Linked DNA regions of Homo sapiens. The protein of the gene in region 2 purifies or fractionates together with the protein of the main gene of each other region. This does not show direct contact. Each region holds a gene or a part of one and is shown on either strand. Other genes may lie near its edges.

Evidence for each region.
Region 1: the proteins of CRYL1 (region 2) and EIF2AK4 purify together in Homo sapiens (affinity purification with mass spectrometry; 2 studies listed by BioGRID and IntAct, with this or other methods). This does not show direct contact.
Region 3: the proteins of CRYL1 (region 2) and ALMS1 purify together in Homo sapiens (affinity purification with mass spectrometry; 2 studies listed by BioGRID and IntAct, with this or other methods). This does not show direct contact.
Region 4: the proteins of CRYL1 (region 2) and IFT122 purify together in Homo sapiens (affinity purification with mass spectrometry; 2 studies listed by BioGRID and IntAct, with this or other methods). This does not show direct contact.

The regions. Positions count from the first base shown.
Region 1 is NC_000015.10:39,964,438-39,972,654, forward strand, and holds part of EIF2AK4 (eIF-2-alpha kinase GCN2), read left to right. Parts: intron 1-1,248; coding exon 1,249-1,406; intron 1,407-2,906; coding exon 2,907-3,442; intron 3,443-8,217. UniProt on the Homo sapiens protein: Metabolic-stress sensing protein kinase that phosphorylates the alpha subunit of eukaryotic translation initiation factor 2 (EIF2S1/eIF-2-alpha) in response to low amino acid availability.
Region 2 is NC_000013.11:20,402,641-20,410,857, forward strand, and holds the end of CRYL1 (lambda-crystallin homolog), read right to left. Parts: intron 2,102-8,217; coding exon 1,995-2,101; intron 1,603-1,994; coding exon 1,489-1,602; 3' UTR 1,029-1,488; downstream 1-1,028. UniProt on the Homo sapiens protein: Has high L-gulonate 3-dehydrogenase activity. It also exhibits low dehydrogenase activity toward L-3-hydroxybutyrate (HBA) and L-threonate.
Region 3 is NC_000002.12:73,605,216-73,611,013, reverse strand, and holds the end of ALMS1 (centrosome-associated protein ALMS1), read right to left. Parts: intron 2,540-5,798; coding exon 2,440-2,539; intron 1,447-2,439; coding exon 1,402-1,446; 3' UTR 1,098-1,401; downstream 1-1,097. UniProt on the Homo sapiens protein: Involved in PCM1-dependent intracellular transport. Required, directly or indirectly, for the localization of NCAPD2 to the proximal ends of centrioles.
Region 4 is NC_000003.12:129,442,487-129,450,703, forward strand, and holds part of IFT122 (intraflagellar transport protein 122 homolog), read left to right. Parts: intron 1-7,384; coding exon 7,385-7,451; intron 7,452-8,217. UniProt on the Homo sapiens protein: As a component of the IFT complex A (IFT-A), a complex required for retrograde ciliary transport and entry into cilia of G protein-coupled receptors (GPCRs), it is required in ciliogenesis and ciliary protein trafficking.

The DNA.
Region 1 (8,217 bases), on a different chromosome or scaffold from region 2:
ACACATTTTTGATGGCTAACATTGGGGTCGGGGTGCTATTGGCATCTAGTGGGTAGATACCAGGATTGCTGCTAAAATCCTACAGTGCACAAAACAGCTGCCTACAACAAAGATTACCTGGTCCAAAATGTCATAGTGTCAAGGTGTTATATATATGCTATGATATGGTAAATTATGGGGTAAAGGAGAATAGAGGGAACTAAAAGAAAAATAAAACAAGTGGTGATTTTTTTCTCCTTTTCCAATTTTTTAGAATTTTCTATTATGGTTTTAATGAAAATAGAGATTTTTATAAGAAAATTTTTGGTGTTACAGAAATTTAGCTCTCCCTGTGTAAGTGAGAACCATATGACTATCACTAAATAAATGTGTCTCATTTTCTAGCTTCAAATCTAAACTGTCATCTCTTGTTCTTTCCTTCCAAAGCATTGACCAGTTTGTATTTACTGAGCATATTCAAATTTTGCACTTAGAAAGTCATTGATGTATTCAGATTTTCAAATTACTGTTTTACTGTGCACACTAATCTATAATGATCTCGATGGCTTGTTCTCTATTTTCATATTCTTTCTGTCATTTTAGTTGGTATTTAGCTGTATGAGTGTACACCAGTAGACACAGTCAGCAAAGGTAGACTCGTTATGAAAATAACATTGTGCATAATGGCTAGTAGCATAAAACACTGGCCTCTTTTGTTTTTTGAGACAGAGTCTTGCTCTTGTCGCCCAGGCTGGAGTGCAATGGTGCGTTGTAGGCTCACTGCAACCTCCGCCTCCCAGGTTCAAGCGATTCTCCTGCCTCAGCCTCCCAAGTAGCTGAGACTCCAAGTGCCCGCCACCAAACCTGGCTAATTTTTTTGTATTTTTAGTAGCGACGGGGTTTCACCATGTTGTCCAGGCTGGTCTCGAACTCCTGACCTCAGGTGATCCATCTGCCTTGGCCTTCCAAAATGCTGGGATTACAGGCGTGAGCCACCACGCCTGGCCAAACATTGGTCTCTTTATTTGCCTGATACTAAGATCTCATTGTAGATTCTTGCCCCTTATAAAAAATTATTTTAGGACTCAGGTATATTGCTAAATATCAAAAATTGTTTACAAAAGGACATTATTACATAAAGTCCTATTTTCCATAGTTAGCGCATGGTATCCATTGTTGAACTAAAGAATGTGTATTACCCCCTCCCTTCCTTCCCCCAAGAGAAAACATACCAGTGGGATTTAATTACACTTTCTGTTTAATGTGCAGGCAGTGATGAACAACTTGGAAAATTAGTCTACAATGCTTTGGAAACAGCCACTGGTGGCTTTGTCTTGTTGTATGAGTGGGTCCTTCAGTGGCAGAAAAAAATGGGTCCATTCCTTACCAGTCAAGAAAAAGAGAAGATTGATAAGTGCAAAAAGCAGGTAAGCATCCAAGGTGGCTGACTGAGCAAAAGGCCTAATCTCAGGCTTTAGGAGATGACAGAACAAAATAGCCCTGCATTTGTTTGCCCTGCAGAGATGGTCCAGAGCAGTATGAGAACTGTTTGACCAGGGAGGACAGTGAAGGACCAGTACCTCTTTGCCCCTTGCCTCTGGTTTCAGAACTTTCACAACATGATCAAAGCACTTCCAGCTGCCTTCTTAACCTCCTTTCTTAGCCCTTAGTATGGCATTAACAGTCATCTTTCCAACTGGGACTAAATACTAGTTCATAATTGGGTTTTTTTGCAATTCTTCTTTTCCCTACTCTTGAAATATTGCTTCAGGGCTGGGTGTAGTGACTCATACCTGTAATCCCAGCACTTTGGGAGGCCAAGGTAGGAGGACTACTTGAGCCCAGGAGGTTGAGACCAGTCTGGGCAACATGGTGAAACCCTGTCTCTACAAAAAATTTAAAAATCTGTGGGCATGGTGGCACATACTTGTGGTCCCAGCTGCTTGGGAGGCTGAGGTGGGATAATTGCTTGAGCCCGGGAGGCTGAGGTGGGATAATTGCTTGAGCCCAGGAGGTTGAGGCTGCAGTGAGCTGTGTTCATGCCACTGAACTGCAACCTGGGTGATAGAGCAAGACCCTGTCTCCAAAAAAAAAAAAAGAAAAGAAAAATACTGCTTCAAAACTGAATTTTGGGGGACCGGAGGATTTTTAAGTTAATTTATAAATTATGATTTATAACCAAGCATAAGGAGAACATTCAGTATTGCATATTGCAGTGTTACATAATAACAAGGTTTACAAAAACGTAGATAAAGCATGGTGTTCAGAAATGTGTGTGTATTTAAGTATAGAAAGAAAACTGAAAGTAAATGTGCCAAAATCTTGAGTTATCACTGGGTGGTGACCACATAGATAACATGTGGGTATTTTCTATCAAACTAATTTTTTAAATGTTGACAATGATCTTTATTAAATCAGAAAAGATTTTTTTTTTCTGTCTTCAACCTTAACTCCTCTTTGCCATGTGAGGTTCTGAGGATTAGGATGTGGCCATTATTCTGCTGCTCAAATCATATACTATATTTTTAAAAACCCAAATACAAAGCTAATCAGAAAAGGTTATTTTTAAATTAAAGTTTGTTTTTTCTAGTGGCTATACCTCAAAAGAATTTTATTTTAAAAACTGTTCACTAATTTTGTAGTATATGCATAGTAGGTTTTGAGATTAGAGAAGTTGAGAATTAGCTAAATTTTTTCCATCTTTATGAACTATTAGATTGACCATATGGTTTGGGGAGGATTCAGTTTAGGGCATATTTGTTCTCCTCTCATTTGAAAGTATATTTTCTATCAAATACTTCACTTTTGGTTTTGGTTTTGTTTTTTTATGCCCCCATCTTGTATGATCAAATACTTCACTTTTGAAATGAAACCCAAGTTAATGTTGACTGGCCCAATATTCTTTTTTTTTTTTTTTAACTTATCAGATTCAAGGAACAGAAACAGAATTCAACTCACTGGTAAAATTGAGCCATCCAAATGTAGTACGCTACCTTGCAATGAATCTCAAAGAGCAAGACGACTCCATCGTGGTGGACATTTTAGTGGAGCACATTAGTGGGGTCTCTCTTGCTGCACACCTGAGCCACTCAGGCCCCATCCCTGTGCATCAGCTTCGCAGGTACACAGCTCAGCTCCTGTCAGGCCTTGATTATCTGCACAGCAATTCTGTGGTGCATAAGGTCCTGAGTGCATCTAATGTCTTGGTGGATGCAGAAGGCACCGTCAAGATTACGGACTATAGCATTTCTAAGCGCCTCGCAGACATTTGCAAGGAGGATGTGTTTGAGCAAACCCGAGTTCGTTTTAGTGACAATGCTCTGCCTTATAAAACGGGGAAGAAAGGAGATGTTTGGCGTCTTGGCCTTCTGCTGCTGTCCCTCAGCCAAGGACAGGAATGTGGAGAGTACCCTGTGACCATCCCTAGTGACTTACCAGCTGACTTTCAAGATTTTCTAAAGAAGTGAGTATCACTGAGATTCTCTCTAATAGCACTTTACTCCTGTACTTTTGATTGTGCTGGAGTGTGCCAGACATCTAAGTGATGTGGAAGCTGAGAAGTGAGGAACAGGACTTCATTCTTTGCTCTCCCAATCCTGTCCTAGTCTCATATGTTCTGTTTTCTCATGTAGGTTGGTGATTCTCTTAACTACCACATTCTCTGAAATTCACTTGGAATTCACACTTGATTTTCAAACTCCTTTTGGGGGACTGATGGGATACTCTTGGAAGTCAATAGAGATGGTTATGGTGAGAAATGCCCTAGGTATTCCAAATACTGACCTTTGCTCTGGTTCCTAAAGGGTCAAAGACGAGGCTCCTTATTCAAAAACAGCTTTGGGAGTGAGATTCTGCCCCTTGTGCTTCTTAACCATTCTTCATTGGCTGTCTCATTCATTTAAGTTGTAGAATGCAAATAACTTCCTTAGTCTAGCCAGAGGAGTTTCAATACCTGTAAATCACAGGTGCATGTTTAATTACAAAGCCAAGTTTTATCCAATTTGGGAGAACCCTTCTTGAGATGTTTCCTCAGGCCTAAGATGTTTGTCCAGGTCCTTCACTTAAGTGTTTTCTAATTTCGTCCTGCCTCTGTTTTCAGTCCAAGCCAGAGCTAAGTTCTGTCAGTTTCTGTTAAATGGGAGATAAGATCCCTTCAGTCTGGATTTTTCCAGATGCTCCTCTGGTCCAGCTATCCTGCAGGAGTTGACCTGGGCTGGTTTCTTCCCTTTCTGACACTCTTTGTTTTTTACCTTCTTTTTCCCAATCATTTGCTTTTATTCACTTCTTCCATTTGCAACATTTCTTTTACCCTTCACATTTCTTTCCCTATTCCACCTATCGCAGTAGCCAGTTGGCCTGGTTTACATTGTTATGCTCTGTCACTGATGGTCTTACCATTACAGATGTGAAAGTAGCTGCACCTGTGTTTGAGATTGTTTTTGTGTAAAGTGAATATGATATATATATATATATATACACACACATACATACAGTTGTGGAAAGGGGCCAAGTTTGATTCTTTATGTTGGTTTCTCGCCTTGAAGTATATGAAAATATTAAGATTTCTAAAGAAATCTTTTATGGTATCTTTTTAATGCAATGGAGCTTTAAACATATTTATTTAAATGCACCCTAACAATGAGGTTGGCCAAAATGACAAATATGATGATAGAATCACAGATGGAAAGTTTCATTTCCATCTTCAAAATGTCACCTTTAGTGTTCTGCCTTCTTCATTGATGAAGAGTAATTTAGTCAAGGTTAGCAATAGCATCATGTGTTGTTAAAAACAGTACTGGGAGGTTTAAGTAGAAGTACCTTTCCTTTCCCGTTTAGTAGCAAAATGAATGGGCTCGGTAGGTAAAACTTTCCTAGTTCTCTTCTTAAATAGCTGTATGCTCTGTCAGTTTTAAACTTGAGATCAGCACAATTTCTTATTCTTTTTTTTTTTTTTTTTTTTTTGAGATGGAGTCTGGCTGTGTCGCCCAGGCTGGAGTGCAGTGGTACGATCTCAGCTTCCTGCAAGCTCCGCCTCCCAGGTTCACGCCATTCTCCTGCCTCAGCCTCCTGAGTAGCTGGGTCTACAGGCGCCCGCTACTACACCCGGCTAATGTTTTGTATTTTTAGTAGAGACAGGGTTTCACCATGTTAGCCAGGATGGTCTCAATCTCCTGACCTCGTGATCCGCCCACCTCGGCCTCCCAAAGTGCTGGGATTACAGGCGTGAGCCATAGCGCATGGCCTTCTTATTCTTTTAACAAGATTTTTCTTTAGACTATTTTGTATACTTCTCTCCCTGGAGTGGTTTGATAGACTGTGCTTGGTTAAGGAGCTGCCAAGAACTGTTTTTATGAACTTTGCTGTCCAGCCCTGGTTAACAAAAGAAAAATGCCATTCACAAAGAATGAAAACAGCAACCTTCCATTTGTAGTTATATTTTTACATATTAGTGAACACCCTTTGGAGCAAGATTTTGTTTCAAATCAGCCTCTGTGATGGGTAAGACTCTGGAGTCAAAACATCTGGGTTCAGGTCTCACCTCTATGTCCTACTGGCTGAGTGAATTAACCCCCTGCCCTGCGTTTCCTCCTCTGTGAAACTGGGATAATAGCACTGCCTACCTCATGAGGTGGTTGTGAGGATTAAATTAGTTAACAGCCATAAAGTGCCTGGCACTTGGCCCAGACTGAGTCAGTGCTGGTTTTCATCACCATCCTCAGTAGTGAGAACTATGAAGAAATGTGGGTGTTGCCAGGCATTTTATCCCTTTTTGTTCAAAGCTGAACCTTTTCTATATACGGCTACCCTGTTGCCAAAATTATTGATTCAGAGAAGTTCATTTTTAAAGTGAGATCTTGGTGGCTATAAATCTCTTAAAAATACTGTGCATTCTAGGTAGGCTGTAACATTTTTCTGATCCAGATTTACTTTCAAGTCAATAACATTTATGTCACAGTTGAGTTACAGTTGATAACGCAATTCAGAAACCCAACAGGGCATATATAGGGATGCTCATTGCAGCATTTTGTGAAAATGTGAAAAATTGGAAATAATCTCAACAGTAGGAGAATGTGTAAATAAATTCTGGTAGGTCCACGCCTATACAGAAGTTTAAAAAAAATCTTTAAGTACTGGCTTAGAAAGAGCTCCAAGACACATGGTGGAATGAAAAAAGCAAGCTGAAGAATAATGTATATAAGATGATATTGCTTAAAAAAATCAAAAAACAATACTATTTTGTTTGGATGGTTGTATGTTTATGTGTATAAATGCATAGAAAAATCTCTACAATGAGACACCCTAAGTGGAAGAAAGAATTGGAAGGGGAGGTTGGTCAAAGGCTTTATCATTATCAGTAATGTTTTAATATTTGCAAGGAGAAGGTATATATGTTTTAATGATATAATTAAAAAGTAATTTTAAATTTAAAGGAAAATACGGTATCTTATACAAATGGTTTTATTAGAATTTTTTTGCCTGTTCAAGCTATGAAATTAGGAGTACCTTGCTTTTTACTGCTGCAACATAAAAAAAAGTTACCATTTATGATAGTTGCTGTCACCACTTTGTATGTATAGATTTTTAAGTCCAGAACTCACAACGACAGTTGATTCTTTTAAGTATATTGTTTTAATTATAGGTCAAGTGCTACCAAGTCGTACTACTTGGGCCGTTGTAATGAAAGTAGCTTGGCATGGTGGTTCATGCCTGTAATCCCAGCATTGCAGGAGGCCTAGGTGAGAGTATCTCTTGAGTCCAGGAGTTCAAGACCTGCCTGGGCAACATAGTAAGACCTCATCTCTACTTTTTTAAGTATTCCAGCACAGCAGGGCGTGATACCTCACACCTGTAATCCCAGCACTTTGGGAGGCTGAGGCAGGCAGATCACTTGAGGTCAGGAGTTCAAGACCAGCCTGGCCAACATGGCAAAACCCCATATCTACTAAAAAGACAAAAATTAGCCATGCATGGTGACACTCACCTGTAATCCCAGCTACTTGAGAGCCTGAAGCAGGAGAATCGCTTGAACCTGGGAGGTAGAGGTTGCAGGTTGCAGTGAGCCAAGATAGTGCCACTGCACTCCAGCCTGGGCAAGAGAGCAAGACTTCGTCTCATAATAAAATAAAATAAAATGAAAATAAATAAACAAAACATTCCAGCATGGTGGTACACGCCTGTAGTCCCAGTTACTCAGGAGGCTGAGGCAAGAGGATGCTTTGAGTCTAGGAGTTCGAGGCTGCCATGAGTGATGATCGCAACACTGCTTTCCAGCTTGGGTGACAGAGCAAAACCTTATCTCAAAAAAAAAAATTAAAATTAAAAAAAAAGGCCAGCTTAAATCAGTTACAGTTTAACTACTTAGACTTTAACTTAGACTTTAGCTTGCATTGAAATCATTTGGAGCTCTTGTTAAAGCACAGATCACTGTCCAAACCTCCAGAGATGCTGATTTACTAGGTCAGGGGTATAGTAGAATTTGTATTTCTAACATTTTTTAGGGGATACTGATGCTACTGGCCAGGGACCCCACTTTGAGAAGCCCTGGGTTAAAGGTATGGCTTGTTTTTCTTCATTAAAAAACAAAACAAGAATTGTCTATTACACCATTAAACAGTAAGTTAATGGGTTCAAGGAATGAAGATTAAAAGAAAGTATATGAGGCCGGGCACGGTGGCTCACGCCTGTAATCCCAGCACTTTGGGAGGCCGAGACAGGCAGATTGTTTGAGCTCAGGAGTTGGAGACCAGCCTGGGCAGTGTGGTGAAACCCTATCTCTACAAAAAATATAAAAATTAGCCAGGCCTGGTGGTGCCTGCCTGTAGTCCCAGCTACTGAGATGGGAGGATTGCTTGAGCCCGGGAGGCAGAAGTTGGAATGAGCTGAGATCACACCACTGCACTGCAGCCTGGGCGATACGGCAAGACCCTATTTCAAAAAAAAAAAAAAAGCATAAACCAATTTTTAAAAAAAGTATGCAATAGAATATGGGACTTTAAAAAAGCCTTCCCTAAATGTTTCCAACTTGCTTCATCCTGTAATGAGCAGGCTTCATCTAAAGCTCGTCATACTGAGCCACTCTGCTGCACCAACTCTCTGATTTGCTTTGTCTTTCGAAAGCTTTATTTATAACCGGTTCCTGCAAAGGCTTAGTTTGGCATGACAAGGCATTAAACTGTTCATCGAGGTGAAAATTTATAGCCTACTTGTGCTACCTTAGACTTTTAAAAAATTGTTCCA
Region 2 (8,217 bases):
TGACCTGATTGGGGCAACTCCTTGCCTGAGGAACGCTTGGCTCTAGGTGAAGGCCCAGCCATTGGCACAGCCCCTGGATTCTTCCCTACCTGGCTCCACTCAGGGTCCCCTCCAGGGCTCCTTTTTGGTCAGGGTGGGCAGCTCCTCATTTCCAGAGCACTCCAGCCCTTCCCTATGCTCTCCTTCTCCCAGAAGGGCTGGCTGACTCCACCTGTTACCCCAGCCCCCTCAGGTTGGCCACCTCCTCAAGACCTTCCAGGGCACATGGGGCAGGCAGCTGGCCAGGCTCTCCTGTGTTGGATTCCTCTGGAGCACCAGTCCTGTTTTATTCTCAATTTATGTTCTTTTATGGTGACCTTCTGAAGGGCAGGGGCCACCTGTGGGACGCCTGGCACATCACAGCCACTCAGTGCATGCTGTGAGAATAAATGAGTGTGATGCAGAAGTCTGTGAGCACAGGTTAGCCACGATGACCACTTCCACACGGCTCCTGACCGGGGCACTGCATCCAACACCTCCACAGCCCTGGCCCCAAGGAAAGGCAGCTCCCTGCTGGACGAAGCTGGGCACCAGAAGCTGCAAGGCTGGGAAGTGTCAGGGGAGCCCACTGGTGGCATCTGGCCACTGTGGTGTGCATGGCCTTGTGGGTGGTGGGGCATGTAATGGTACTCCCAGAGTGTTTTGGGACTAGATCTAGGAAAAGACCACATCAAAGACAATAATTGAGTGTTGGATCAAACAGGTACTTTAGTGTAGAACTTTGGTGCCTTTAATTTGCTACAGACATGGGGTGTCTAAGGGCTGGGCAGTCAGTGATGTTTCCCAAACATCATCTGACCATAGAGCCTCAGGGTACCATGGAACCTACTCTGGGAAAAGCCCACATTTCTGGATTTCTGCTGAGTGATGGACAAAGGGCCTGGAAAAAAGTATCTGCTTATGACTTATGCGTCATGGTCACCCTAAAATATGCCGGTCATCAGGATCAAATGCTGTGTTTCTCATAAAAAACCAAAAGAGAAAAGATGTCTTTAAGGAATCAAAAACTTTTATTCAGAATAAGCGTTAGCAAAATGAAGGTAGGTGCCTCATAAATGCAGGGCCCCAGAGTACTCAGAAAGGGATTAGAAAATAATTACAAAAATATTTTGCCACATATTAACATGAAACTACAATCACTGGCTGTAAAATATAGTCAAATGCAATCAAGCTGAAAAGAAAAGGTGAAAATCTCCAGGTTATCTGCCCAGGTGGCAGGAAATCGACAGCCCCGAGAACGCAAGTGCTGCTGTGCCGCCAGGCCCAGGGCTATGATCCAAAGTGACGGGCAGACTACCGGCCTGCACCACCCCACTCAGGCTGCACACAAGACAGCCAGCTTAGGATCTCCGTGGGCTGCTACCTATGTCACAGAGGGCTGATTAAGGGCTTGCAGTGTTCCCAAATAGGGCCTCCAATGAGAGGAGTGGAAGCTGCATTACAAGAAATTCACTGGGGCTGCACTTGACTCTTCAACTTGGCGAGTCTCATGAGGCACTCGTCCCTCCACTGCCTCCTGGCAGCTAAGTGCTCCGGGTCATCAGGGACCTTCATGCACATGTCCTGCAAGAAGGAGAAGGAAAAAAAAGGACAATAAAGAGGAAATAATTTATCAAGAGTGTAATTATTGCTCTTGTTTATGCAAACTGTGCAGAAACTGCTTTCAAAGACAAAAGCAATAAACCCTCAATGAACAGCAGCTTTCCAAATCTTGAAAGACCTCAGTCCCTCAGAGACAAGTCACAATGAGCTACCAGTTCACTGGTCACCCTGTCCTTAAGGTGTCCTGGTGACACGATGGAAGTATGAACAAAGTTATGAATGAGGAACCACCAAGATCAAGGGTAAAGATTCCAGCTGCAGAGGCAGGCCCACCCGCTGCAGAGGTGAGGGGCAGCAAGTGCTCCAGGTAGCCAACATGCTTCTCTGCAGTGAGTTGCAGAGAAGTTACATACCTGGTTAACCTTCTCAGCAGTGGCCCTGGAAAACTCTGGAATGGGTCCAAAAGTCTGTAGGACATGTTTTATGCCTTCGCTGTATCTGTCGCAGTAGCTTAACATACCTGGAATTGTATGAAGACAAGAATCCACAATCTCAGAAAAAAACATTCTTAGTTATATTCAAACTCAGAAATGCATTCAGAGAGTTTCACCCTGGGGTCAGATAAGCTACACTCTTCCCTCCCTGTGAAGACAAGACAGAGCTGGGGCATGTGTAAGGGCCTGCTGGCACTGGAGAAGCGACCCTCCCCATTACGCACTGTCCACGCTGGCTCCTGGGGGTTCGAATGCCAAAAAGTGCTGGTCCTGGCTGGGCCCGGTAGCTCATGCCTGTAATCCCAGCACTTTGGGAGGCCAAGGCGGGTAGATCACCTGAGGTTGAGAGTTCAAGAGCAGCCTAGCCAACATGGTGAAACCCCGTCTCTACTAAAAATACCAAAAATCAGTCAGGTGGCGTGGCAGGTGCCTGTAATCTCAGCTACTCAGGAGGCTGAGGCAGAAGAATCGCTTGAACCCGGGAGGCAGAGGTTGCAGTGGGCTGAGATCGCGCCACTGTACTCCGGCCTGGGCAACAGAGCGAGACTCCGTCTCAAAAAAAAAAAAAAAGTGCCAGGTCCCTCAGACCTTGCATGCCACCTCTGCTGGTGCATCTCATGGGACCCTCCGGTTGGCCTGCGTTCACACACTGATTTGTTGGCTATCACAGTAAGTCCTAATGTCACCAAGTGTTTCCTCCAACCATGGGTGTACAAGGTTATTTGTGTACAACGTTTGAATGCATTTTCCAAGAATTAAAAATGTCAGATCTCAGGTAAACCTGTCACTTATGTCACTGTTAGACCACAGATCTCAGTTAGCACTGTATTGGGTACGGTCAAGGCTGCAGGTACTTGAAACACCGGTTGGAGAGCTCACGTTGGCTTGTACCTTGCTGGTTTGGGTGGATGGAGCCAGGCGCTCATCTGCACAAGCCCCCATGCACGCTCCCCACGCTCCTGCTGCTCCCCAGCCTTGGAGAGCCATGATTTCTCAGATTCTAAGGAGAGGGCCCTGGGACTTTGGTGAAGAGATGCAGGAAGAGGCTTATCCTGGAGGGAGAGGGAGGGAGCCGCACGGGCTAGGCTGACTGTGCGAGAATGGGGTGCGCCCAGGGGAAAGCGCAGGCCAGTCACGGCCCCCACCCAGCACTGGCCTGCCCCGACCCGCTGGGCCCCGCAGACTTACTCTCCCTCACATTCCTCCCCTCCCTGCTGCCGGGAGGCGAACGGGCTGGTGCCGGCCTGTGCTTAGCAAGTCAAGTCAGAAGCCAGGGCCGGGATCCTGGAAGAGGAGGAGGAGGCGTTTCTAGTCCTGGGCGCCATGGAGGACATAGGCTGGGCTACTGCTGCGACCCTGACTCATTTCCCACATCTTTCAAACCCTTAAAGGCTCAGCAGCTGGTCAGTCCGCCTACAAAGGTAACATGGGGACAAACGAAGCTGCAGAACGTGCAGAGCCTGCCCCAGCTCAGCTTCCCACTCCCCACAAAAACCGTGGATGATTAAGTTAAAATACGAACCATCGGTACTAGATACGCTCAAAAAGCAAAAAATAAACAAACATCATCTTTGGGGTTTAGTTTTGATTGACCTATGCTGATTTGAAAGCCTAAAATCATTGGGTTGCAATTTATTTGCTTCAAATAGTTCTTCTCTCTCAGTGTGTTAAAATTTCCCCCAAAATGGTTTTGAAGGGTAAAAGACTCAAACATACCAACTTTTCTGACATTAGCATCTGAAATTAACGGATGGGTACTCTGTTTATAAAAGAAGGGGTGTCATCTCATTTAACCTAAGTGTTAATTTGGCAGTGCAGAATTCTGGAAGTCTCCTGAGCTTTCCAGCACTGGATACGTACTGTAGATGGCTTAGCATTTCTGGAGAACAGAAAACAACCTACACATTTATTTCATTTGGGAAATTATTTACTTCACTTTTGCTAGTTGCTTATTTATTAAAACTAAAGGAGACAAAATCTAGACACAAATACAGTTTATTCCTTCCTTTTGGGGTGGGGGAGGGCAGAGACACAAGAATCAAGTTGAAAATACATTAAATTAGAAGAAAATGGAAAGAGCTGCTGTGGCTGCATATCCCCCCACTTGCAGGCAGGCAGGCGCCCTCACGAGACCCCTCAGCAGCCAGTTCCATCTCCCTCTCCTACCAGAGCAGCCACAGGCCAGGGGTTCAGTTCACGCAGCACTTGCTCTCTGGAACATGTCACATTCTCTGAGCAAGTGTTCATCTCTCCCTGTTCTGTGAAACCATTTGAACCTCCCAGGAGCTTTCTAGAACTTTCTTTCCTTTCTGCCTTTGTAACGTTTTAAAGGGACATTTATTTCTACAAAACTTTTATTCTGTTTTATTCTGTTTTGTAGAAATAAATGTCCCTTTAAAACTTATCATGCTGGAATTCATAATAGTGCAATTCATAATTTTCCCCATTTTTATTCAGGAAACCCTTTAAAATGTCAATCTTACTGATATAAAAACTTTCTGTAACATGCTCTTGGGATGAAGAGCCTCACTGTCTGTGATGAAGTTTAGGCGCCCACACCACGTGCTCACCATGAGATGGGTGCAGCCTCCGGGTGCTCCAAGGGCAGGAGTTCTCAGTGACTTAGACTCACGACCTGCATCTGCCTGATTATTTACAACCATGTCCCAGTAAACTTATGACTGTGACTGTTATTTGCAACTCCTCCCCTTCCATTTTAGGGAGGTGTAATTTATTTTCAACAATTATTTTGGCTTCTCTACACCACGAGAGGAGAATTGGGTGTAAATTACTCTAAAATGCCAATTTCTTTGGAAATAGGAAAAATACAACACAGCCCACTTCACTTTTGATCCCCTGGTCTGCCCTTCCCCACTATTTCTATCTAATCCAGCCTCCCCTGTATTTTTTCTTCTGTGCTTCCATGCCCTCTGTCCCTTTGAGTTCTAATTCTTCCAAAACCCTTGTAGAGCTTGGCTTTTTAGAAGATTCTGAACCTAATTTCTTAAGAGATGCTTATCCAGAAAAAGACAAAGAGTAGAAAAAAGAATTGATTCTCATGAGATTGGATGTAGCTTAACTTGCTGCTTTCTAACTTGCGAGCCTTGGGCTGTGGGCCTCTGAGGGACAGTGGGTTTGAATGCCCCAGGTGCACAGGCAGGAATCCTTTCTGTTCCCATGTATGCAGCAGGCACCAGAGGAGGCCTTAACCCCAGCCCGAGGCCACAGCCACTAGGAGGGATTCCAGGCATCAGCTCCTTGGAGAGCCTTAATTGCCACCCATACATGGGAAGTCCGGTTTTCTTTCACGCAGCTATGAACCCACACCTGTATGAATTCACCTGCTTTTTAGAGACAGGGTTTCACAGAACTCATTAAGGAAGATCAAAAATGCCTCAAAGCACAGAGCGACATTATCTCATTCCTACTCTCAGGATCAAATTCCCACCTGAGTGAGGACTTGCCCAGGGTAGGGGAGGCAGAACCGACCCGGGCCCCTCACCTCACCTCAGCAAGTCCCCGCCCATCAGCTCACCTGCTTCCACTGGCTGGCAAATAATTGCTTCCCATCAATCAACCAAACCCACCAGCCACCAGGCATCTCAGTTTTGAAAAAGGCAAGTGTCTACACAGGAGAGGAAATCTGTGAGGCAAAATGGTAAATAAACATCCACTTCCCCTGGAGGCGATTTCCACGCTGCCAGATTCTGAGATGTCCTCATTTCAAGTGGAACAAAATGCAGGAGGAACCCAAACAGCCCCAGGGACAAGGCTGAGCGGTTTCTCTCTCTACTGACCTGCGAGTCTAAAGCTTAGCAAAGAAACAAACCCGGCTGGGAAACTCTAGGTACCTGGTTCCAGAGGCTTCTCCATGCCATAGCAAAAATCCTAATCTTGTGATTTTTGTACATTGATTTTGTATCCTGAGACTTTGCTGAAGTTGCTTATCAGCTTAAGGAGATTTTGGCCTGCATTCTTATACACCAACAACAGACAAACAGAGAGCCAAATCATGAGTGAACTCCCATTCACAATTGCTTCAAAGAGAATAAAATACCTAGGAATCCAACTTACAAGGGATGTGAAGGACCTCTTCAAGGAGAACTACAAACCACTGCTCAAGGAAATAAAAGAGGATACAAACAAATGGAAGAGCATTCCATGCTCATGGGTAGGAAGAATCAATATCATGAAAATGGCCACACTGCCCAAGGTAATTTACAGATTCAATGCCATCCCCATCAAGCTACCAATGACTTTCTTCACAGAATTGGAAAAAACTACTTTAAAGTTCATATGGAACCAAAACAGAGCCCGCATCACCAAGTCAGTCCTAAGCCAAAAGAACAAAGCTGGAGGCATCACACTACCTGACTTCAAGCTATACTACAAGGCTACAGTAACCAAAACAGCATGGTACTGGTACCAAAACAGAGATATAGATCAATGGAACAGAACAGAGCCCTCAGAAATAATGCTGCATATCTACAACTATCTGATCTTTGACAAACCTGAGAAAAACAAGCAATGGGGAACGGATTCCCTATTTAATAAATGGTGCTGGGAAAACTGGCTAGCCATAGGTAGAAAGCTGAAACTGGATCCCTTCCTTACACCTTATACAAAAATCAATTCAAGATGGATTAAAGACTTAAACCATAAAAGACTTTAACATAAACCATTAAAGACTTTAAACCTAAAACCATAAAAACCCTAGAAGAAAACCTAGGCATTACCATTCAGGACATAGGCATGGGCAAGGACTTCATGTCTAAAACACCAAAAGCAATGGCAACAAAAGCCAAAATTGACAAATGGGATCTAATTAAACTCAAGAGCTTCTGCACAGCAAAAGAAACTACCATCAGAGTGAACAGGCAACCTACAAAATGGGAGAAAATTTTCACAACCTACTCATCTGACAAAGGGCTAATATCCAGAATCTACAATGAACTCAAACAAATTTACAAGAAAAAAGCAAACAACCCCATCAAAAAGTGGGCGAAGGACATGAACAGACACTTCTCAAAAGAAGACATTTATGCAGCCAAAAAACACATGAAAAAATGCTCACCATCACTGGCCATCAGAGAAATGCAAATCAAAACCACAATGAGATACCATCTCACACCAGTTAGAATGGCAATCATTAAAAAGTCAAGAAACAATAGGTGCCGGAGAGGATGTGGAGAAATAGGAACACTTTTACACTGTTGGTGGGACTGTAAACTAGTTCAACCATTGTGGAAGTCTGTGTGGCGATTCCTCAGGGATCTAGAACTAGAAATACCATTTGACCCAGCCATCCCATTACTGGGTATATACCCAAAGGACTATAAATCATGCTGCTATAAAGATACATGCACACGTATGTTTATAGCGGCATTATTCACAATAGCAAAGACTTGGAACCAACCCAAATGTCCAACAATGATAGACTGGATTAAGAAAATGTGGCACATATACACCATGGAATACTATGCAGCCATAAAAATGATGAGTTCATGTCCTCTGTAAGGACATGGATGAAATTGGAAATCATCATTCTCAGTAAACTATCGCAAGAACAAAAAAACCCAACACCGCATATTCTCACTCATAGGTGGGAATTGAACAATGAGAACACATGAACACAGGAAGGGGAACATCACACTCTGGGGACTGTAGTGGGGTGGGGGGAGGGGGGAGGGATAGCATTGGGAGATATACCTAATGCTAGATGACGAGTTAGTGGGTGCAGCGCACCAGCATGGCACATGTATACATATGTAACTAACCTGCACATTGTGCACATGTACCCTAAAACTTACAGTATAATAATAATAAATAAATAAATAAATAAAATCCTAATCTGTATTTATTCCTCTCTCTGCACTTGTGAATCTTTTTGGAAGAATTTTAAAAACCAAAAATAAAACAACAACGAAAAAAACTAGAAAAGTAGTACGTGAAAGAAACAAGACAAAGCTCTGTTTGAATATAACATATATTAAGGACTTAACAGGTGCCAGCAATCCAGCTAAGAGCTTCCATCTGGTTCAATTCTCACACCACCCTGAGGAAGCAGTTACTGTTGTCCCCATTTCACAGATGGGGAAACTGAGATGCAGTGAACTTAAGTCATTTGCCCAAGGTTATACAG
Region 3 (5,798 bases), on a different chromosome or scaffold from region 2:
TGGCTGGGAATGGGAGGAGCTGGCTGGCACCTGCCACCTGGGCCTCCCAGGACCAAATCTAACTGCCCTTGGAAGGTGTCTGGATGCCACAGCCTTGGGCCTAGAGAGAATCATGCTCATCATTCCTCATCAGACTCCATCTTGCCCTGGGTTCTTTGCAGACCCAGGTTTGAGACAACAATTTGTTTCTATTCTGAATAATAATGTCTCACAAGAGGTGGAAATAGTCACATTGTTTTAGAGTTTATGTAAAGAGGGGCTTAGAGGTATTAACCCTCTCATTTTACAGGTAAATTGGCCAAAAGTGCTTCATTACCTTGCCCAGCAAGAAAGGGAAGAACTATGAGTTGACCTCATGCACCATGGGTTCTTTTCCCAGTGTCCTCTTCATGGCAGGGAGCCCAGGGGGCAGGATCTGAAAGCTCTGAACCGTGCTTGAGGGCAGGGCCTGCTCTTGGATCCAGCCTCCCAGGAAGCCTTCTCGGTGGATGACTGGCCCTTGCCAATCTTTGTACTGGGGTTTGCTGAACTTAGAGTGAGGCTGTTGAAAACCTTCCTCCATTACTTTGGGCCTTAGCTATAATTCCAGGCCACATGAAAAAAAAAAAAAAAATCCTGTTACATTCTGATCCAGTTACTGGGTTAAATGCTTTATCTCATTCATTGACTCATCTTTTTCACAAGTTGTCCTTTATGTTGTAAGTGTTGGTTTCACGTGTAATGATAAATGGTCTGAGGCTTTAATCCCAAAACCGAGTGTGGGTGGAGGAAGATCCATCAGCCAAGGCTAGTGGCCTTTCTCCCCAGCCTACACAGAGAGTCCCTGGGGGAGCTGGACTGGGGCTGAAAGGAGGCTCTGGACCCAAGACACCTCTCCTGCTGCAGTCTCTGGGTGCACCCGGTGGGCATCTAACCAGACACCGTCTCCTCAAAGCCCACAACAGTGCTCCCACTACAGCACATTGTGTTTCTAAAGATACAGGCTACATTTCCTTCTAAGAGCCCATTTCCCTCAACTGATGCATTTAGACACCTCGGTGGAGACAATGCATAGCTCCTTGCATCTCTCCAGATGGGAAAGAATTGTTTACTATGAGTTAATCTAAAGTTTTTATTTTCTAAAAGTATAAAAACACATACAAAAAGGGACTTATTCTTGAGAAATGATCATATCATTGTAACACACAGGCCATTGGACAAGGCCACTATGCAGAAAGTATTGCTCCCAAACCATTAGGAATTTTAATCACCACTTTGTTCCAGACTCTTTAGAAGTTACTATTTCTAAAATACACATGGACAAAGAATAAGCTTTATTCAACCAGACTCACAAAAGTAAGGATTCTGCTTCTCTAGGTTCATAAAATAGAATTCCAAGGCTCTGAGGAAAATAAACTTGTGTCAGTCCCAGGGAACTTTTCTCCCCAGAAGTTGATTGGTCACTCTCTGTAGAAGAAAAGAAAGGCAGGAAAGAAGTTAGATATTACTGCCATCAGAGGCAGATGCCTCTCCTCCCTGCATCCATGTCACCAAGGAGAATCAGTGTGGTCCTATTCAAATCTTGTTCATTTTACTCTGCTTCAGAAACTATGGTCGTCATATAAAAAATACTTCACGAAAGGTTCAGGAAAGAGGATCTGTAATCAATATCTATTATTTCTATAGAGACACAGATAATCCATCAGTTCCCACATACAGTAGCATAAGGAGAGGCCTGGCCCTGCGATGCTGACACACCAGACAGGTGGTGTGGTGCCTGGGGCCTCCACCTGAGGCACCCGCCTGGGTTCTGGGGCCTGCTCCAGAAGCAGCTCCCATCCCACATCAGTCTGGTGACTGACAGGGTGAGAAGGAAACAACTACAGTGAAGTATATGGCCCTTCAGGCATAGGAGCCGGTCTGGTTTCTCAGAGAATTAACTGGTAACACCAACCCTGCCCCGTGAGGTTCTTGGACTTGCAGCAACGCTGACTCTACTGGGACAATGGGCAGGGCATGGTGACAAGTTGGAGGCCTCTGACCATCCAAGTGGACAACTCTTATGCCGCAGTTACACATTTTCCAGTTTAACAGTTCTAAAGGTATCTGACTCACCAATGAGGGGCATGAAATCACCACCTGGGACTCTGGAATGGAAACCTGATAATTCTGGTATTTCTACCATGATATGTCAATGAACTCCTGTGTGTGAAATTTGGTTTCACTGCAAACGAATGCATGGAAAGGGCCTTACACCATTATGGATGGGGAGTTAAACCTGATTTGAAGTCTAATTACAGATGCCTTCTTCCAAATTTCAACACTGGTCCAGTGCATTCTAAGTTCATTCCTCAAATGCGGTTCATTCTGACTTCACACTCAACAGGCAACGTGTTTTCTCCATTTCTCTTTCCGCCAATAAACCTGATCCATCCCACTCTAGACAGAGGACCCACTGACCTTTTTATATAGCTGGGCTCGCAGCCGGTATGACTTATATTCTGATTTTCTCTTCTCTTCTTCTCTCTTTTTCTGTACTTCTGGAAGCTGCTCATAAATCCTTAGAAATGGCACCAGTGAAAGGACAGAAATCGGGGAGGTTACCAGGGTGCAGAGTCATGAGATCTCCTCTCATCATCCCTCCCTATACCTCCCACTCTCCAGGAGCTCATCCCTCTCAGAAAGGCCCTGGGCCCCGTTAGATACTCCAGCACAGAAAACCCTAGCCCGGGGCTCACAATCTGGAAGGGGAGATAAATACAAACACAATAAAATCCTAATAGTGCTTACATGTGGAAAGAAGTGGGATAAAGGGGGGAAAGGAGTGAGATAAATGAAGGAGAGCTGAACTTCTACTTTCTGCTCTACATGCAAAAATGGACTGTTTCAATATAAGATAATGAACAGCGTTACTATTGTGTTTGGAAACACAAGTGAAATTATGGAAAAGTACTAAAATGGTCACACCTATAAAATGTTCTAGAGGAGAAGAAACTTGGTCTGGTGGAAGGAGGTTCGGAAAGGCTCCAGAGAGGAAATTATAGGTAAGTTGGGTCTTAAGAATAGATAGGAGCGCTGGGTGCAGTGGCTGAAGCCTGTAAACCCAGCACTTTGGGAGGCTGAGGTGGGTGGATCACGAGGTCAGGAGTTCAAGAGCAGCCTGGCCAAGATGGTGAAAGCCCGTCTCTACTAAAACCACACACACCAAAAAAAAAAAAAAAAAATTAGGTGGGCATGGTGGCAGATGCCTGTAATCTCAGCTACTCAGGAGGCTGAGGCAGGAGAATCGCTTGAACCTGGGTGGCAGAGGTTGCACTGAGCCAAGATCAAGCCACTGCTGCACTACAGCTGGGTGATAAAGTGAGACTCCATCTCAAAAATAATAATAATAATAAAAAAATAATAATGATGGATAAGAGCAGAAAGGGAATGGGGAGAAGGACAGAAGACACTCAAGGTGGGGAAAATGAGTGTTGGTAAAAATGGACTCGAGGCTTCCCAAAAAGGAGCGTAAAGGAATAGGTGGGAAACAGATGGGGGTGAGGGTGAGGTGGGCTGCAGAGAGGATCTTGTGGCCATGTGAAAAACATGGGATCTGTTCTAGCAGGGGTTGGGTGGCAATGATTTTAAGTTGGGAGAAACACAAATGTGCATTTGATAAATGCACTCTCATTGTAAATACGTTTCCAACAAAACAACAGTTAAATAGATTATGAAGTATAATGGAATGTATATGTTACAAGTATGTTTCATGTATACCAAACAAAAGTTTCAGAATTTTTAGTGTCATAGGAAAGGTTCACAACATAATGTTGAATAAAATAAAGCAAGACACAAACCTGTATATGCAGTATGATTAACAATTTGAGGGAAAAAAGTGTGTGTTATGCAGGTCTCTGCAAAATTCCCACGCCTCCCACCAAAAATTCCCATCCTCCATTAGATGGAAGGATGATAAGTGATATTCATTTTCTTTTTTCTACTTTTCTCTATATTTCCTAAAGTTTTCTATAATCTGGAAAAAAAATCACTAGATTCATGGAGGGCTCTGCGGGAAACACATTAGAGAAGGTGAAGGTGTCTCCTGAAGGCCACTCTGGAACAAGTGCTTCCAAATAAAAGAGCTATGTTCTTTCCTCTTGAAATCTTTCCTTCTCACGGGAACCTTTAAATATCTTTGGTAGAGATAGGTGATAACAAAAGATGAGTAACACAGGCTCCAGAGACACAAATCCTTAATAGGACACAATTGAAGGCCAAACACCAGGCTCTAACTCCAGCTGTGACCCTAACTTGCTGGGTTACTTCCCCTCTCTGGGTTGTAGTTTCCTAAATATTAAGAGTTACTAGATGATATTGAAGATTCTCAGATGGAAACAGATCACTCCCTTGAAAAGAGGCCACACAAGAAATAAACATGAACAGAAGCAACCTAATGAAAATGTACCAGTTTAAAAACAGTTTAAAAAGTCTCTCCAGAAGATGGGCACTAAATCCACTCATATATTTCTCGTCGAAAGCATTGATACATTTTAGGAGATGTCCTGGCTGTCTTCCTGTAGGCAAGCTTCCTAGTCCCTTACAGCAGGGACTGCTCTTGCTGAGGTGAGAGTATTAGTAGCTGCCCCACAACAAACCCTGTATGATTTCCCCTAATTCCATTTTGTGACTGAGTTAGAATGAAGCAGTGGTTCAAAAATATTTTAGACTTAGGGCCCCCTTCACACTCCCAAATGCTGAAGATCCCAATGTAGGTTTTATCTATTGATACTGTATCAAAAATTAAAATTAAAAATTAAGCAAAACTTTATTTTTTTATTCACTTGAAATAACAATAAGCCTGTGACAGGCTAACATAAGAAACCTGTATTTTTAATGGGAAATAAAGACTTTTTGAAAACAAAAAAATGTTAGTGAGAAGAGTGGCACTGTTTACATTTTTTAGAAAACTCTTTAATGTCTGGTTTAATGGAAGACAGCTGGACTTGTATCTGCTTCTGTATTAAGTCTGCTGTCCCAACCTGCTCTGGTTAAAGTATACATTAAAAAATCCAGCTTACATATAGATTTTCCACGTACTTGGAAACGAGAGAAGTTACTGCAATACTCTTTTCAGGTAACTCTTGATCTTCTTTGATACTACACCCAAACTTGATAAGTGATAGTTTCTTTTCTTTCTTTTTTTTTTTTTGAGACAGAGTTTCGCACTTGTTGCCCAGGCTGGTGTGCAGTGGCGCGATCTTGGCTCACTGCAACCTCTGCCTCCCAGGCTCAGGCAATTCTCCTGCCTCAGCCTCCAGAGTAGCTGGGATTACAGGTACCCACCACCATGCCCAGCTAATTTTTGTAGTTTTAGTAGAGAAGTCTTTCACCATGTTGGCCAGGCTTGAACTCCTGACCTCAAGTGATCTGCCCACCTTGGACTCCCAAAGTGTTGGGATTATAGGCGTGAGCCACTGTGCCTGGCTGACAAGTGGTAGCTTCTTAAAAATTAGTTGCAAGGTGGAATCTGAAAACATGTCATAAACTTTTCCTATTCTGTTACATAAAAATCCATCAGTCTATCTTTCATTATTTGAATGAATCTTCTATCTATTCCCTGATTTTGTAACAAAAAGCAACAATCATTTGGAAAATCCTGGTCCAGGGAGTTGTGCAGATCTTCCAAATGTTGACAAATGTATTTAGATAACATGAAAAACATCACATTTGTTAATGCCACCGCTTATCTCGTCAGAAAGGTCTAAGTACTAAGAGGTCATCAAGCCCATGGAGGTGAATACAAGTTTTCTAGATTTCTATTGTTGGCTTGAAAACTC
Region 4 (8,217 bases), on a different chromosome or scaffold from region 2:
AAGGGATGTAGGGGTTCTATAGACCATCAATCCTGATGGCTGCTAGATATACCAGCTGATAGCCCAGAATGAAAACAAAACAAAAAACTAAACAAAAAAAAAAAAGACAGTAGAACTAAAAAAATCCTAGATGTCAAAGATTAGTCCTCCACATCCAAATCAGCCATTGTCTCCCGGTCTGCTCCTTTGCTTCTATTTTAACCTTCACATAGCAGCAGGAACTCTGTTTTTTTAAGACCTGCTGCTGTGATCCTGTTACTCTACTTCTCATAAACCTAGAGTGATTCCCAATTACTTTCCATGTCAAGTCGTGCATTTTGCTAGAGGGTCCTCCTGACCCTCCTCCCCATCAGGCTTGCAACATTTAAATTTATACTTTTAGGTTGAGCTGAAAACTCTATTTTTCTACCCGAAGATCCTTCCCAAATGCTCCCTTATTCTATGAACTCCCTAGTTTTCTCCTTTAAATGCACAGCTCCAGGTTCATCTCAACCAGGATGTCTTATTAGGCTAGCCCACTGTATTCCAATCAGGCTAGCATCTGCTGTAACTCTCCATTCATGCCAGCTAGTATTTACTGAGTACTTGCTATAGGCCACATGTCCACATGTCTTTATAGGTGTTATCATGTTTAATCTCTACAACATGTGAGGTTGGAATTTTCATCTCATTTAAAGATGAAGAAATTGAGATTTAATGAGGTGACATAAGTTACCTAAGATTACAAAATGAGTAAGTGGGGCTGGGTCAGATGATGCAGGAATTGGAGAGGCACTGTGGGACATTGGTTTACAGTGAGGTGGGTGCAGGGTTGTCAGAGGACAATTTGCAGGATTCCTCTGTATCTCTGCAATGGAATCTGACAGTGTGTCTTCTGACAGTGTATCTCTTTTATAAAAAGAGGCAGGTGGAGAGAGAACCATCCTACAGTAGAATAGACTGCCTGCAAATGAGTGAGCTCCCAGCCCTGGAGTGTTCAAGCAGGGGCTAGATGGCCATCTATAAGGAATTCTTGCCCTGATGGGCCAGATGGACTGCATGACAAGGTCTAGAGTCCTTTCCAATTCTGAGTTTCTGGTGATTTCATAATTATATTTATTACATGTCTAGGACAGTGCCATGCACTGTGGGTCCACAAATATGTAGAACATGGCCATTGCTTTCAAATTGTGTATGACTATAATTAAAGGGGCAAGGCAAGATAATATCTAACACAATGTAAAGAAGACTGTATAAGTCAGAGCTAAACTGAAATGTACAGATTCTAAGTACATTAAGAGTTTAGATTGGGGCAAATCAGACATATATGATATATTTTAGGAAGGCAAATTTCAAGATATTCAGAGAAAATGAATTTTTATATCTAAGAGGAAGAATGTTCAGGCTTGGCTCAAATGAGACATTCAGAAATGATTTTGTGATAATTCAACCCAAAATGACCCTTATGAAGAAGAGGTCACACAGGAATCACTTTGATGAGCTCATATGTGTACAAGGCAGAAAGGAAGCCACATACCAAGGATGACTTTAGATGAGAGGTGCAGACACTGCTCCAACATCTAATAATCCACCATAGCAATCCACAAGTGTCAGGCGCTTTGGATAGACTGGCTTGTGCACCCCGTGAGTAGGAGGCTACCTCTCTATCCTTGTTTTGTAGGTGAGAATGAAAGCTCAGATAGGAGATCAGCTTTTCTGGCCCCACGTCCCCCCTACTTTTTATTCCGCCATGCTGCTTCTCAAAATGTGAAATGTGCCAAGGCTCAGAGGAAGAAAGCGTAAGAAACAAGGAAGGCCCAGGTCTGTTACCACATAATGGTGAGGAAGCTGAAAAACTCAGGGCTTCAGTTTGCCCAGCTGGAAAGAGTGTGATAATCATCCTTGTTCCAGCTTCTTTATCAGCCAGCTCTGTGACTAGGAGCAAACAACTTGCCTCTCTGTACTTTAGTTTCCTCATTGGTAAAATCGGGGCAGTGGTGCCTGTCCTGTCTACTACATTATGTTTTCGTAAGGATCAAATAAGATAATGTAAGTTTACACTCTTTTTTTTTTTTGAGACAGAGTCTCGCTCTGTTGCCAGGCTGGAGTGCAGTGGCGCAATCTCGGCTCACTGCAAGCTCCGCCTCCCAGGTTCAAGCCATTCTCCTGCCTCAGCCTCCCGAGTAGGTGGGACTACAGGTGTGCACCACCACGCCCAGCTAATTTCTGTATTTTTAGTAGAGATACAGTTTCACCATGTTGGCCAGGATGGTCTCCATCTCTTGACCTCGTGATCTGCCTGCCTCGGCCTCCCAAAATGCTAAGATTATAGGCGTGAGCCACCATGTCTGGCCAAGTTTACACTCTTTAACAATTCTTAAATATTGAATAACTGTGAAGAGTTTTTATTAAAGGAAGCGTCAGGTCAACAGAGCCATATTAAAAGCTTTCTGAATTCTTCATGTAATGCCTTAAGTAGGTAATAATACCTTTTTTTGACATATGCCAACAATGATAATGGCAGCCACATAGCATAATGGTTAAAACATGGGCTTCAGGCCAGATTGCCTGGGTTTGAGGCCGGATGCAGTGGCTCACACTTAAAATCCCAGCACTTTGGGAGGCTGAGGCAGATGGATCACTTGAGGTCAGGAGTTCGAGACCAGCCTGGCCAACATGGTAAAACCCTGTCTTTACCAAAAATACAAAAATGACCTGGGTGTGGTGGCAGGCACCTGTCATCCCAGCTACTCAGGAGGCTAAGGCAGGAGAATCGATTGAAACTGGGAGGCAGAGGTTGCTGTGAGCCAAGATCCTGCTACTGCACTCCAGCCTGGGTGACAGAGCAAGACTCCACCTCAAAAAAAACAAAAACAAAAACAAAAAAACAGATTGCCTTGGTTTGAATCCTGGCTCCATTTCCATTCAGTAGCACTTTATTTTCAGGCAAGTTATTTAACTTCTCTGTACCATAGTTTTCTCATCTGTGAAACAGGTATACAGTTGTTTTGAGGTTAACATGAGTTAATACATGTAAAGCATTTAAGCTGTACCTGGCATACACAATAATAAATGTGTTCAATAAATGTTAGTCACTGTTATTAAAGTATGAAGGATAACAGATTTGACATACTTGGCAGTAATTCAAGGGAGCAGAAGGCAGCATAGCGCGTTAATTACAAGCACAGACTCTAGAGTCAGACCTGAGTTGAAATCCTGGCCCTTGCACTTGCTAGTTGTGTGACATCAGGCAAACTACTTGACCTCTCTGAGCCATGGTATCCTCATCTACAAAACAGAGTAATAATTCCTACCTCACAGAATTATTGTGGAGATGAAATAAAATAATGCATTTTAAGAGCTCAGCAGGTGCTGTCTGGAATAAGAGTTCGAAGTACTGTCATTGAGAGTGTACTTCCAAGTTACTGACAAAAGCTTGATTTTTAGATTACTGGTATAAACCAAAAATAAAATTCAGAGGCCCCCCAACCATCTGAATGGATTTCCTTCTCAACCAGGGCTCTTTTAAAATTTAACCTGAGAGACTGTTTCAGGCCATGATGGGAAATGGGGGTCAAACATGCCTCAGTATACCTCTCTGGCATTAACATCAACACAGACTTTAAGTATGATAAGAAACATTTTACAAACTCTCCTCTCTAAAGCCTAGTACCTCAAGGCTTCCTCTGCAAACAGTAACTTGGGTTGCCACAATCCTTTATCTTAACCCAGGCATTCCTTTCTGTTGAACCTAGGTTTTTTGTTTTTTTTTTTTCTGAGACAGAGTCTCACTCTGTCGCCCAGGCTGGAGTGTAGTGGCGCGATCTCAGCTCACTGCAAGCTCCACCTTCCGGGTTCACGCCATTCTCCTGCCTCATCCTCCCGTGTAGCTGGGACTATAGGTGCCCGCCATCATGCTTGGCTAATTTTTTGTAGAGACGGGGTTTCACCGTGTTAGCCAGGATGGTCTCAGTCTCCTGACCTCATGATCCACCCACCTCGGCCTCCCAAAGTGCTGGGATTACAGGCATGAGCCACCGCGCCCGGCCGACCCTAGGTCCTTAGATAAGCTCAACCAATTGTCAGAAAAATTTTAAATCAACCTATAAGCTAGAAGCCCCCTGCTTCAAGTTGTTCCATCTTTCTGGACCAAACCAATGCATTTCTTAAATGTATTTGATTGAAGTCTCATGTTTCACTAAAATGTGTCAAACCGAGCTGCACCCTGACCACCTTGGGCACATGTTCTCAGGACCACCTGAGGGCTGTGTCATGGGCTGTGGTCACTCATATTTGGCTCAGAATAAATCTCTTCAGATATTTTACAGAGTTTGATTTTTTGTTGACACTGGCAAGTTTATCCCATGCTAAACTTTTACTATGGGTTGGGTTTTGTTTTTTTGTTGTTGTTGTTTGTTTTTTGTGTGTTTTGTTTTGAGTAACTTCAGTAGTAACCTTAACAATAGTCTGTTTTGACAGGTTTTTGACACATTCTTACTATAGTCACCTGAACCAATGAAATCCTCTGCCTGGGGCATTTGAAAAATCTTTGTAATATGGCTCTAGCCCATTTTTCTAGCCTCATTTCTCCATGTTCTAGCAACATCTTGCACATAGCCAGATGTTTCAGTCAAATTAAATTATTTTGATTACTTGTGTTGGCAAGAAGAGTCAAACTGCAAAATATTTTAAGAGATTTATTCTGAGCCTAATATGAGTGACCACAGCCAGTGACACAGCCCTCAGGAGGTCCACAGAACATGTGCCCACGGTGGTTGGGGTGCAGTTTGGGGAGGCATGAGACATCAATCAGATACATTTAAGAAATACATTGGTTTGATCCAGAAAGGCAGGACAACTCAAAGTGAGGGCTTCCAGGCTATAGGTAAATTTAAACATTTTCTGGCTGACAATTGGCTGAGTTTGTTTAAAGACCTGGGATCAACAGAAAGGAATGTCTGGGTTAAGATAAAGGATTGTGGAGACCCATGTTCTTATTTGCAGAGGAAGCCTTCGGGTACTAGGCTTCAGAAAGAATAGGTTGTAAAATGTTTCTTCTCACCCTGCAAAACAGAGTCTTGCTGTCACCCAGGCTGGAGTGCAGTGGTGCAATCTCGGCTCACTGCAACCTCTGTCTCCCGGGTTCAAGCAATTCTCCTGCCTCAGCCTCCCTAGTAGCTGGGATTACAGGCGCCCGCCACCACACCTGGCTAATTTTTGTATTTTTAGTTGAGACAGGGTTTCACCATGTTGGTCAGGCTGGCCTCAAACTCCTGACCTCGTGATCCGCCCGCCTCGGCCTCCCAAAACGCTGGGATTACAGGCATGAGCACCGCACCCAGCCTAAAATGTTTATCATACTTAAAGTCTGTGTTGATATTAATGCCGGAGAGGTACAATGAGGCATGTCAGAGGCCCACTTCCCGTCATGGCCTGAAACAGTCTCTCAGGTTAAATTTTAAAAGAGCCCTGGTTGAGGAGGAAGTCCATTCAGACGGTTGGGGGGGCTTACAATTTTATTTTTGTTTTACACTTGTTATTTCTCACTTTCATGTCTTTGCTTGTTTTATTTTCTTTGCCTGAAATGTCCTTTACCCAGTGTCCTCCTCCATGTTTCAAAAGCCCTACCTTTTTCAAATATCTTCTTCATTAATCTTTTTCTGATCCTCTCCTTGAATTAAAATGCTGTTGAAGCGGCGTCATTGTCTGGGGTAAATATCCGAGATTTGTTGTCTCAACAGCAATGGAAAACTAGGATACGGACACACCAGAGTGAGGTTACGAGTAGAAGTTTAACAGGCGAAAGAAAGAGAAGAGCTCACTGCAGCTGACAGCGTTCTCGAAAAAATGAGTTGCCACCTCTGTGGTGAAATGCAGGTTTTATAGATAAGCTTGAGGAGGTGGTGTCTGATTTACATAGGGCACAAAAGATTGATTGGATTGGTGTTTCATTTGCATAACTTTCGAAAAACTGGTTAGGGCTAGGTGTGTCATTTGCATTGGGTGCGAAAAGCTGGCCACCCCCACCCTAATCTTTTATTATGCAGTTGGGTTATTTACGTGGCCAGCGCCATGTTGCCCGTTTCTTTACTGTACACGTGGTGACAAATTAAAGGGAGGACAGAACCTCCATGTTGAACATACTTGGCCCCCAGGTAGCCTTTTTCTATTGGCACAGCTGCCGGCATTCACCAGTGCAAGCTTCCAGCTTGCCTTTTTATTTATTTATTTATTTTTTTTTTTTGAGACGGAGTCTTCCTCCGTCGCCCAGACTGGAGTGCAGTGGCATGATCTTGGCTCACTGCAACCTCTGCCTCCCAGGTTCTAGTGATTCTCCTGCCTCAGCCTCTCGAGTAGCTGGGATTACAGGCGCTCACCACCCACCACCATGCCCAGCTAATTTTTGTATTTTTGGTAGAGACAAGGTTTCACTATGTTGGCCAGGCTGGTCTCGAACTCCTGACCTCAAGTCTTCCTCCTGCCTTGGCCTCCCAGAGTGCTGGGATTACAGGCATGAGCCGCTGCGCCAGGCCTCAGCTTGCCTATCTATGTTTGCAGCTCGATTTTTCAGGCTGCTCTTTGTTAGAAAAAAATAATTTCTTGGGCTGCTTTTTATTAAAAGGGAAGTTCTGCCGAAGACTCTTTTACCTTCACTATCTGGCTAAATAATTTCTTTCTAGCTCCTGTATCACTGCGTCTTCCTCCTTCGAATCCTGTTTTCATGTGTCTCTTAAAGCCTTTATCAGAGTACTGTTCTGTATTTCATCCAATCTAATAGGTCATTGATTATAAAATACCATTGTTTTGTGTATCAATAAGAAAGCAAAAAATGCTGCCAGTTACACTGAAACATCATCAATTATAAGACACAACCTTAGAGGTGAGAAAATGTGAAAAAAAAATGTAAGCTTTAGAATTGATGACATATGGTAGTTCTTTGTGAAAGTGTCTGTTTCACACCTTCTCACTGGATAGTAATTTCCCTGAGGGGAGGGAGGGATTATGATCTGTTCATATCTGTTGGTGCCTGGCACCTAAGAGGGACTCAGTAAGTATCTGTGGATTTACTGGCCCTTAACACATTCTCTCATGTTGTCTAGCCTTTATGATATTATTAGAAGAGTTAATACCCTCAACAGTTGACCCTTTGAATAATTTCTTGTGTCTGGCTTCTGGACAAGAGGAAATCAGGACAAAGAGCTAACTACTGAGTGGATCATGATTGAATGGGCTGCTGTGGTGTGGCGGTTGAATGGAATTTGCAACAAATGCAATTCGTAGTTATTCTTTTTCTCCTCAGTACACACACAGTGTTTCTTAATGGCAATAAAGTTTACTTTCCTGGCCATTAGCAGACTTCATCATTTTGGTTCCTAATTGTCTTTTTCCCTTGTCTTCTGTTCAGTATAAATGACATCGCATTTAAGCCTGATGGAACTCAACTGATTTTGGCTGCCGGAAGCAGATTACTGGTAGGATTTTGTCTTAGTTTCCTCTTAAAGTGCTTCCCTAACCTCCCTCTTGTGAGTACTCTGAAATTTGACCCTTTTTTTTTTTTTTTGAGATTAAAAAGGCAAGGGTGGAAAAACCTTCCCTATTACTTTTTAATAGGGATGGAAATGGGCTATTTAAAACGGGCAAGTAAACTATCAGATAAGAACCTGTGAACAATACCACCTTTGGGGTCATTCATCTTTCCCTTTTTACTTTGAGACACCCATGAAAGAGTTGAAAACAATCACAATGCCTTTGAAACTGGACTGGTGTCAGTTTACATTTTGTCCCCCAGAAAAATTCAAGCAACAGGACTGACGGTGCTGTGTCCATGAAAAGTCAGATAGCCTGACCCCAACTTTTAGGCATTGGCCTATCTAAACAGTTCCATATGGATGTTGTCCTATTTTTCATATTTTCAAATAACATAAGCTCCCTCTGGAACCTATCCAGGTATATAAAAGTAATTTTCAGAGAACCCCTTATGTTTGACCAAAAAACCTTTGTATGATCTCTCTTTCTGTCTAAGTCTACTTCCTCTTCTCTGTTGTCTCTAGATACGCAGACTGATTAATCTCCATTCTTTGTATGGTTAACTACATAATCTTAAAACATGGTTAAATTGTTCTGCAGACTTCTCTCCAGTGTAAACAATCCAAACTCTATTAGTTTTTCTACATAGGTTATCTTTTCCAATACTCTAACCATTTCAGAAAGTTTCCGCTTGATTTCTCAGATGGTGTG